3 linked regions of the Homo sapiens genome follow. The protein of the gene in region 1 purifies or fractionates together with the protein of each later gene. This does not show direct contact. Each region holds a gene or a part of one and is shown on either strand. Other genes may lie near its edges. The genes, in order: FAM210A, IFT52 and COPB2.

Region 1 (3,653 bases):
ATTTTAACCTAACATATGTTTCATTTTAAAAGTTGATAATCTTTGTAACTATTCTCCGGATTCAGACAACTTTTTTGAGACGGAGTTTCACTCTTGTTTCCCAGGCTGGAGTACAATGGCGCGATCTCGGCTCACCGCAACCTCTGCCTCCCGGGTTCAAGCAATTCTCCTGCTTTAGCCTCCCAAGTAGCTGGGATTACAGGCATGTGCCACCATGCCTGGCTAATTTTGTATTTTTTTAGTAGAGACGGGGTTTCTCCATGTTGGTCAGGCTGGTCTCAAACTTCTGACCTCAGGTGATCTGCCCGCCCTCGGCCTCTCAAAGTGCTGGGATTACAGATGAGACCCACTGCAGCCGGCCTGACAGCATCATCTTGATAGCTTCTATGCCTATGGGTCTTTATTTTGGAAGGGAAGACTCACTGTAAATTGTGGAGTTTAGCCATATTAATCTCATTTTCTAAACTGACAAATATTTATGAGGGTCTGTGAAACTTCTACCTAAGGAAGTTGAAAACACAGAAACTAGATGTTTTATTTTACTTCTGTTGTATAAGAATATCTAAGAATTACAGTTTTACAGCATTACTCAAAAGTAGCATTGTTTCATTCTGTCATCCTCATTAGCATCCTCTGAAATCTTGGTAGATTTCCTCTTTTATTATAATTTTGATGAGAGGGCTAACATTTAATTTTTGAGTTTTTCTACATTAAAGTGTATTAAATTTAAAAATTATCAAGTTTCTAATTATGGTGGGTATAATTTTAACCCGAGTAAGTCAAACTATCATGCTGATGTAAACCTTCCCTAATTTAATTGCTCCTTATCCCACTCCCATAGCATGACAGTTGATAGCACAGTGTGTGCTAGGTGTTAAGTGTTTGTTTTATTTGATTAGGAGCTCCCAGGAACTCAGAATCATGTCTTCTTTCTTGTTTTTTTTCACTGCACCTGGTATTATGTTCTGTAGGTGAATAAAATGCTCAGCACGTGTTTGTGGAGTTGGGATTGAAAATGAGGCTGTAGGCGTCATGGTAGGGAGATGAGTGCCAGTGGTGTTTCTTCCCCCTCACTATTCCTCTGTGAAGTAGGAGATATGGAGGGGATTCTCCTTTGTATTATCTGTAACCCCCAGTTTCTCAAATAGAGCAACAGACACAGATTTATTGCTTCAACAAGACAAAGTCCCCAAATGAAGTATGGCATGTATGGTCTGGTGGCAGTTGGCTACGGGATATATTCACTGACTGCCTCATAATCTCTTTGAAATACACCCAGAGTTTTAGTCATCCTCTGCTGTGTGCTAGGTACCATTCTAGGTACTGGGAATAAACGAATCAAAGAAGACAGTGCAAAATACCTGCCTCATAGGGCTGATAGTGTAGTGAGTGGTAGTGGGTTGGGGAGACAAGGTAAAGTTAGAAATGCATGCACACACAAAGTGTGTGTACGTAGATGATGGTAACTGCTAAGAAAGGAAACCAGGGATGGGGGTATGGATTTGTTTTTCAATGGGAGATGGCACACCTTGCTGAGAAGGTGAGAGAGTTGCTCCTCCAAGAGGGAGGAGCATTCCAAACAGAGAAAATCCGAAAGACAAAGTTCTGAGGCTGCAGGATCCTGGGAGTATTTGAGGGATGCAGGGAAGCTAGTGTGACCGGAATCAGTGAACAGGGCAGAGAATGGCGTGTCATCAGATCAGGACAGCCTTGTTGGCCCTTAAAAGGACTTTGCTTTTTACCCTGAGGACATGGAAAGCCACTGGACAATTTTAAGCATCCTGCCTCTGTTCCATCAAAATCACTTTGGCTGCTCTAGTAACAGACCATGGCGGGATCAGGGGAGAAGCCAAGGGACCTGGTGTGAGGTGAGGTGATTACAGTATTTTAGTTGAGAGGCAATAGTGGCCAGAACCCAGGTGGTAGCAGGAAGTAGTTGGATTCTCGATACGTTTTAAAGACGTGGTTGCTGGGGTTTTCTGATGGTTTGGATATAAATTATGGAAAAGAAAGAGGGGTTGAAGCTTTCTTGTAAGTTTTTGGCCCGGACAACTGGAAGAATAGAATTGCCATTTTCTGAGATGAGTAAGACTTTGAGAGAAGCAGGTTTGAAGTAGGACAGTCGAAGATCCGAAGGTCAGTTTTGAACATGCAGTCATGTGCCACCCAACAGCATTTCGGTTAACCATGGACTACAGACAGTGATGGTCCCATAGGTCCCATGTTTTTATGAATGTCATATTTTTACTGTAACTTTTCTACATTTAGATAGTTTAGGTATACAAATACTTACTGTGGTCTTATAATTGCCTACTGTGTTCGGCACAGTAGTGTGCTGTACAGGTTTGTAGCCTAGGAGCAATAGGCTATACCTTGTGGCCTGAGTGTGCAGAGGGCTACACCATCTAGGTTTGTGTAAGTACACTCTGTGAAGTTTCACACAACAATAAAATCACCTAATGACACATTTCTCAGACCGTATCCCCATTAAGTGACTCACCTGCATTAAGTTTGAGATCTTATTAGATATGCAAATGGAGGTGGTTGTATATACTGGAATTCAGGGGAAAAGTTCAGTCTGGAGATTAAAGTTAAGAATCATCCATGTATAGTTGGCACTAAAGACCAGAGAGTGAGATAGGTAGAGAAAATAAGAGGTCCAGGGATCGAATGTTGTCACACCACGTTCAGAGGTGGGTGAAAGGGGAGGAATTGGCAAAAATGAGAAGCCGCCATGAACTAGAAGGAAGCCCAGCAAGTTGAGGGCCTGGAGCCAAGTGAAGGGAAGGTGAAAGCTGTGTGGGATGGTTCCAGTGGTTCAGGGGCTGGTTCCAAATTGACAACTGGATTTAGTTTTGTAGAGGTCACTGTGACTTTGAAAGCAGTTTTGGTGAAGAGGTATGGGTGAAAGCTTGCTTAACGTGAGTTTAGGAGAGAAATTAGAGATAGAGCAGACAGCTCTTTCAAAGTTTTGTTATACAACACACCTATGCATTTTGTTTTGTTTCGTTTGAGACAGGATCTTGCTGTTTCCCAGGCTGGAGTGCAGTCGTGCAATCACAGCTCCCTGCAGCCTCGAACTCCTAGACTCGAGCAGTCCTCCTGCATCAGCCTCCCAAGTAGCTGGGACTACAGGCACATGCCACTTACTCCCGGCTAAGTATTTTTCTTTTCTTTTTCTTCTTTCTTTTTCTTTGTGTTTTAAGAGATGGCAGGGTCTCATTATGTTGCCCAGACTAGTCTTGAACTTCTGAGCTCAAGCAGCCCTCCCGACTGAGCCTCCCAAAGTGCTGGGATTATAGGCGTGAGCCATTGTACCTGCCAACACCTATGTTTTTTGTTTTGTTTTGTTTTGAGAGGTAGCTTCACTCTTGTCGCCCAGGCTGGAGCGCAATGGTACAATCTCGGTTCGCTGCAACCTCTGCCACCGGGTTCAAGCGATTCTCCTGCCTCAGCTTCTCAAATATCTGGGATTACAGGTGCCTGCCACCACGCCCGGCTAATTTTTGTACTTTTATTAGAGACTGGGTTTCACCATGTTGGCCAGGCTGGTCTTGAACTCCTGAACTCAGGTGACCCACCCACCTAAGCCTCCCAAAGTGCTGGGATTACAGGCATGAGCCACTGCACCCAACCTGATTTTTGACTTAGAA
Region 2 (3,653 bases), on another chromosome or scaffold:
AGCTAAATGTGAAACATGAACCACTCCAGCTCATCCAGCCTCAGTTTGAGACGCCGCTGCCAACCCTTCAGCCTGCGGTGAGTAGGTGTGCTTGGGAGATCCCACTGCAGAGCCCCACTGTTGCCCTTATCTTGTCAGCAGGCATTCGCTGTGGTCCCTTCCATGTGCCATTTGTGGCACTCCTTGTGGAGTCATAGTGCTCTGTCTCTAAACATGCATGGACACCAAATTTGTTAATGTTCTATAGAGACTTCCATGTGGTATGCTTCCAAATTGAGGAATCAAGGATGTGGAGCCTTCTGGCTATTAAACATTTCCTATTCTCATCTTGTGGGGTTGGAGGGCATATATGAGATTTCTTGGATAAAAAGGAAGAAAACTTTGTACTGCCATTCCAGGTGTCAGGGCCTGATTCATAACATAATTCTCACAGCCCAGGGGATAGTTATGGTCATGTGTGTAAATAGGTTATTTTTCAACATTTCAGTCCAACATTCAACTTGCCTTTAAAATTACCTTGTCTCACCACATTCTGAAATGTTATGAGCCAGTTAGCTTGATCTTGCTTGGTAGCTTGAAATTGGCCATGGTGAGAGGATTTACATTACAGAAAATGGTAAATGCTACAAAACAGGCCTTCAGTTTTGTTTTGTTTTGAAAGTAGTTAAACATTTACCCGCATACCATTGGTTCATACCTACAAAATGTGACTCCAGGTTCAATACTTTCTACACTAATCTGCATCTGGTTCTCCAAATAACTTCCATCCCTAAAAACTTATGATTAAATGAGAAACAAGTTGTACAATCAAATGTTCAACACAAACCTAAGCCCCAAGCTTTGTGTCATCGTTCTGAGTTAATTAGCATTGGTATGTCAGCTTGGTCAGTTTAGTGGTAATTAGAGCTGGTTCTACTTGGTTGTTTACAGTGGGCTAATAATCTTTCTTGGTATGGGTCTAATGGGTGAGGGTAGACGAGGTGATGGGAGTTTGGGTATTTCATCCTCAGGGAAGAGCCGAGTTACTGTTCTGTAGGGGTTTCCATGTGGTGTGGTTCCCAACTGAGGAATTAAGGATGTGAACTTCCTTATTCTCCTTGTGTCTTATCACTGTTAGTTATGATTTTGGACAAGCTCTTTCTTGAGAGACTTTATTTCCTTTACCTTATCCTCCCTCATTTCTAAATAATGACTTTATTTCCTTTTAGGTTTTTCCTCCCAGTTTCCGGGAGTTACCACCTCCTCCTCTGGAGCTATTTGATTTAGATGAAACGTTCTCCTCTGAGAAGGCACGGCTGGCTCAGATTACCAATAAGTGTAAGTTTGGCGAACTTTTTTTTTTTGAGACAGAGTTTCACTCTTGTTGCCCAGGCTGGAGTGCAATGGTGCGATCTCGGCTCACTGCAACCTCTGTCTCCCAGGTTCAAGCGATTCTCCTGTCTCAGCCTCCCGAGTAGCTGGGATTACAGGCATGCGCCACCACGCCCAGCTAATTTTTGTATTTTTAGTAGAGACGGGGTTTCATCATATTGGTCAGGCTGGTCTCAAACTCCTGACCTCAGGCGATCAGCCCGCCTCGGCCTCCCAGAGTGCTGGGATTACAGGCGTGAGCCACCATGCCTGGCCTAAGTTTGGCCAACTTTTAAACTTTGTTTTCTCTTATGAGTTTTATTTAATCATGAATTTCTGAGAATTGCTATGAGAGACTGCTTAGAGTTTGTTTAGGGAAAACAAAATATGAATAGGAGTATAAACTTACCATTCTTATTTATGTCATGTAAATAATGTTGGTTGTTCTTCTCGAGGCTATTTAGTTCAGTGAATTAGAACATAGTGCCAAGCAGAAAGCCAAAGGTCTCAGCTTTGATCCCTGTGAGTCCTTAGTTCTGACCTATTGAGAGACCATAGAATTAATCTTGACCCTGGCTGCCACTTAGCAAATCTCAGTCAGTGGTCATAGGAGCAGCTAAATAAGGAAATTGAGTAAGGCCCAAAGAATGATAGAGACTTCAAATTGGACAGGATCTGAGAGAGAGCCAAGTGTGCCCACCTTGACATGTGGATGAAGAAATGAGGCCCCAGGCCACACAGCTCCACGGTGAGTGGTCCTCCTGACTTTTGGTCTGGGGCTGCTCCTGACATGAATTGCCTCCAACACAGCAAATGGGTCTGCACATATATGCTCAGAGGCATAAAATTAACCATCCACTTTGAGGCAGTGACCCCACTCCTGGAACTCTAATCTAAGGAGATTATATTTTTTTTTTTTTTGAGACAAAGTTTCACTCTTGTCGCCCAGCCTTGGGTGCAATAGTGCTATCTCAGCTCGAGGTAACCTCCGCCTCCTGAGTTCAAGCGATTCTCCTGCCTCAGCCTCCCAAGTAGCTGGGATTACAGTTGCCCACCGCCACGCATGGCTAATTTTTGTGTTTTTAGTAGAGATGGGGTTTTACCATGTTGGCCAAGCTGGTCTAAAACTCCAGACCTCAGGTGATCCACCCGCCTCAGCCTCCCAAAGTGCTGGGATTACAGGCATGAGCCACCACGTCCGGCCAACTTCTACACTATTTATTTTTAAAATACAATAAACTCGGGAGGCTGAGGTAGGAGGATCGCTTGAACTTAGGAATTTAAGACCAGTCTGGGCAACATAGCAAGACCCTGTCTCTAAAAATATATTTTAAAAAAATAACAATTTTTAAAAATAGAAAAAAACTATAAATTTGGGAATAGCTTTAATGTCCACTAGCAGAGTAATGGTCTTAAAATGCGTCACATTCATTTGGTAGGAGAATATGTAGTCATTATAAAAGAGGTTCACAAAGGCTAGGGAATGACACATATGACACAGACAGAATTTAAGAGAGAATCCTGAATGAAGAAAGCAAGATATAAAACTGCATGTACAAGAGGATACCAGCTATGTCAGTAACATCTGTATGTGCCCAAAGCCCAGAAAGAAGTAAGCAAAATGGAAACAGTTCAGTGTAAACGAAGACCTTTACTGCATCTCTCTTCTGTGGCAGGCATTGCTGTGGGTCCTGGGCAGTCAAAAATGAGCAGGACATAGTGATGAGTCCAGGAGGAATCACAGAACGGTGAAGAAGCAGCTTTGACTTGGCATTTCTGTTTCTAGCAACTGTCCTATGGAAATCCTTGTAGAAATGCAAGACAAAAAAGATATAGATATTAATTATAGCATTCAAAAAATTGGAAACAGTCTAATGGTCCATCCATCATTAGGGGGATTGGTTAAAAAGAGTATGAAATAAGCCTGGGTCACATAGACCCCATCTCTACAAAAAAAAAAAAAAAAATTGCCTGAGCACGGTGGATCATGCCTATAATCTGAACACTTCAAAAAGCCAAGGCAGGAGGATCAGTTGAGGCTGGGATTTCAAGACCAGCTTGGACAACATAATGAGACCTTGTCTCAAAAAAACAAAAAAAAAGGCTGGGTGCAGTGGCTCACGCCTGTAATCCCGGCACATTGGGAGGCCAAGGTGGGCAGATCACCTGAGGTTGGGAGTTCAAGACCAGCCTGACCAACATGGAGAAACCCCTTCTCTACTAAAAATACAAAATTAGCTGGGTGTGGTGGCGCATGCCTGTAATCCCAGCTACTGGGGAGGCTGAGGCAGGAGAATCGCTTG
Region 3 (3,653 bases), on another chromosome or scaffold:
AATTTGTTTTAAGAAAAATTGTTTTCATATCTTATGTGAGCTCTATTTTGCAAGATAAGAAAAGATGTAAAATAGTATGTAAACTAGTCTGGAAAGCCTAAGAGTACAGACATAGCAGTTATTTGCCAATGTCTGAAACTAACTAAAAATATGTTGGTTTTGAAAGACAGCCCAACCCCCTCATCTTTTGGTGTTGAATAGAGCAGGCAGTCAGAGAAGGACAGTGCTGCCTTGGTGGCACTCACCTTCAGCAGCAGATGCTCTTAGCACATCTGGTCTAAATGTTTGAGCTAAATGAGCTGTTCAGGGAGGCTCAAGTGGGAGAAATGTTAATACCATTTTTGTAATGATATTTTTATAGATCTTTGTATATTGAGGCTCCCAATTGTTTCAGACTGGCATTTACTGGTAAATTAATTTCAGATGTGCAAAATAAATTTTAGCTACGTTAAGATCATCTAAACATGCAGCATTTTGAGTTCTGAAAAGCTACAAGTGAGACATAATATTATTGTGAAATATTTAAAGACGTAGTTTTGTATGCTTTCAAAAAAGTGATATTAAATCACTTGTTAAAATAATTGCAGTCTAATTGCCTTAAAACTCCAGTGAGATGGTTTTACTTTCCCTGTGTAATTATAAGATAAAAGTATAATGGGTTGACGATAATTATTTGCACATCATTAAAATTGATTTGTGTTTAAATTCATTTTGTATACATTAATAATTTCCATTTCCTCACTGTACATTTTGCAATGCCATTCTTATTTTGATAGAGCCAACTTAACAAACACAGCTCTTTTTATAAACATTGTCTGCACAGTTAACAGAATAATGTTGGAAATGTAAATGCTTATTTCTAAAGATATTTTAACTTGGAAACTCTTTTCTTACAGTCAGAACAGAAGTGGAAACAACTTGCTGAACTTGCCATTAGTAAATGTCAGTTTGGCCTAGCCCAGGAGTGCCTGCATCATGCACAGGATTATGGGGGCCTGCTGCTTTTGGCCACTGCCTCTGGAAATGCTAATATGGTGAACAAGCTAGCAGAGGGTGCGGAGAGAGATGGCAAAAATAATGTGGCATTCATGAGCTACTTTTTACAGGGCAAGTGAGTATTAATTTAAAAGATTAATTAATTCTACACTGAGGATGGTTTTTGGAGAGGGAAGTGAAGAATGAACCCTGGAGAGAACTGATGAATGGCCAAATGGTGTTGAATAGACGGGGCAGTCAGAACAGGACAGTGCTGCCTTGGTGGCACTCACCTTCAGCAAGGGATGCCCTTAGCACATCTATCTAAATGTTTGAGCTAAATGAGCTGTTCAGGGAGGCTCAAGTGGGAGAAATGTTAAACACCTTCTTCAACAGCCCTGCCAGTTAATGGTGGAAGCATTTTATTTTATGATTGCAGGAGGCTATTGAGCTGCTCTAGTAGGTACCTGAAGGGCAGGTGATTTTACCCAAATTGGATAACTTTGATCCATTTATGGCAAGAACAAAAGGGGATAAGTATGCCACTTACTTGTAGATTTGAGCCCACTATAAAGCATAAAGATGTCTCATATTTTTAAGTCTAACCGAGTTAGCATAAACCAAATCATTTGGACATTAGTTGGCAGTATTATGAAATAAAACACAAAAGTATTCTTTCCTTTTTTTTTTTTTTTTTTTGAGATGGAATCTCACTCTGTTGCCCAGGCTGGAGTGCAGTGGCATGATCTCGGCTAATTGCAGCCTCTGTCTCCCTCGTTCAAGCCCTTCTCCTGCCTTAGCCTCCCAAGTAGCTGGGATTACAGGCATGCGCCACCACACCCGGCTTGTGTTTTTAATAGAGATGGGGTCTCACCATGTTGGCCAGGCTGGTCTCAAACTCCTGACCTCAAATGATCCGCCTGCCTCGTCCTCCCAAAGTGCTGGGATTATAGGTGTGAGCCACCACGCCCAGCCCGAAAGTATTCTTTAACCTTCTCCTACATACTGATTTTTTTTTTTTTTTACAATCCCATACTTCGCCATATAACTTTGAACGTGCACCCCATTGTATGTATGTGAATGTATTTATGAATTTATATACCTGTAAGAATAGACCCTATTCCTTATCCATAATTCAAAAATCCAAAAATATTCTGAAAACAGTTATAACTGTTTTGATGGCAAGACCTGAGCTGAACTGCTTTAGTATTTTTAGTTGCTTTTATACCAACTTGGTACATTTTTATTGCATTTAACATTCCTATGTAAGTTATTGCAGTATTAATGTTTGTGGCTTTTTCATGCTGAGGATGTAAGGTAATACATAGTATACATACTGTATCACCTTTCGAAAATCCAAAAAATCCTGAATTCTGAAACATATTGTCCACATCATAAAACTTGCACAGAAAAAAAATGAAATTAAAATAGAAGAAAAAATAAGACACCATGGTATTCTGCTGGGCACCACTGGCTTGTCTGGCCCTTCCCATGTTGGAGACACTGCCCTAGATATTTGTCTTGTGGAACTGAATTTCTGCTGGCATATATCCTTATGCCTTTAAAATTTGCTAATCTAACCTGCCTTAACTCCTCTTGAAAAGCCCCTTTAGGTTCTTAGGAATTATAATAATTAAGTTAAGTAGATTCAAAGTAGTCAGGAAAGCTGTCTTATCCCTCATACCCTTGCAGTGTGTTGATTAACAACCATTAAAAGACAAGTGACAGAAATGAGATATATGTGTGAAGATTGGGGAGATTTTTGGCTTTGTAACACTAAATTTACTTTGTGTTAAGTACCCATTATTATAGTGTTTATTCTTGGTAACAGTACCTCTCCTTTTTAATGTTTAGGGTTGATGCCTGCCTAGAGCTCTTAATTAGAACTGGACGGCTGCCAGAAGCTGCCTTCTTGGCCCGAACTTACTTACCCAGTCAGGTTTCAAGGTACAGACTTTTAATTTTAGGAAGAAATGTTTCCAATAAAAAGAGAGCACATTTACTTAGTCTCTCTTTGGTTCCATGATGTCTATAATAGGGTAGTGAAACTCTGGAGAGAGAATCTCTCAAAAGTCAATCAGAAAGCAGCAGAATCCCTTGCTGACCCAACAGAGTATGAAAACCTGTTCCCTGGATTAAAAGAAGCCTTTGTTGTTGAAGAATGGGTGAAGGAAACACATGCTGATCTGTGGCCAGCCAAACAATACCCACTTGTCACGGTGAGTGGCCAGGATGTCAAGCTTCATTTATTGTAACTACAGGGTGGAAGTACATTCAGGACTTCAGATTTTGAACTGCTGTCTTCTTTTAAAATTAAGAGCTGATATCTGGGATTTAGGCCAAGTTCATAGGTAAATTATGATTTCAGAATATCTCATTTCATCATTGCTTTATTCTCTGATAGCCAAATGAAGAGAGAAATGTCATGGAAGAGGGAAAAGACTTTCAGCCCTCAAGATCTACAGCTCAACAGGTCAGTAGAGCACTTCATGTGATAAATTTGGCTGAGATGGTTCACTTTTTTTTTTTTTCTTTTGAGACAGAGTTTCGCTCCATTGCCCTGGCTGGAGTGCAGTGGCGCGATCTAGGCTCACTGCAAGCTCTGTCTCCCGGGTTCACGCCATTCTCCTGCCTCAGCCTCCCGAGTAGCTGGGGTAATTACAGGCGCCCATCACCGG

What was found.
Region 2: the proteins of FAM210A (region 1) and IFT52 purify together in Homo sapiens (affinity purification with mass spectrometry; one large-scale study listed by BioGRID and IntAct). This does not show direct contact.
Region 3: the proteins of FAM210A (region 1) and COPB2 purify together in Homo sapiens (affinity purification with mass spectrometry, with the first as the bait; one study listed by BioGRID). This does not show direct contact.

Annotation. Positions count from the first base shown.
Region 1 is NC_000018.10:13,667,420-13,671,072, reverse strand, and holds part of FAM210A (protein FAM210A), read left to right. Parts: intron 1-3,653. UniProt on the Homo sapiens protein: May play a role in the structure and strength of both muscle and bone.
Region 2 is NC_000020.11:43,635,937-43,639,589, forward strand, and holds part of IFT52 (intraflagellar transport protein 52 homolog), read left to right. Parts: coding exon 1-77; intron 78-1,208; coding exon 1,209-1,317; intron 1,318-3,653. UniProt on the Homo sapiens protein: Involved in ciliogenesis as part of a complex involved in intraflagellar transport (IFT), the bi-directional movement of particles required for the assembly, maintenance and functioning of primary cilia. Required for the anterograde transport of IFT88.
Region 3 is NC_000003.12:139,358,539-139,362,191, reverse strand, and holds part of COPB2 (coatomer subunit beta'), read left to right. Parts: intron 1-896; coding exon 897-1,111; intron 1,112-2,829; coding exon 2,830-2,922; intron 2,923-3,013; coding exon 3,014-3,194; intron 3,195-3,379; coding exon 3,380-3,448; intron 3,449-3,653. UniProt on the Homo sapiens protein: The coatomer is a cytosolic protein complex that binds to dilysine motifs and reversibly associates with Golgi non-clathrin-coated vesicles, which further mediate biosynthetic protein transport from the ER, via the Golgi up to the trans Golgi network.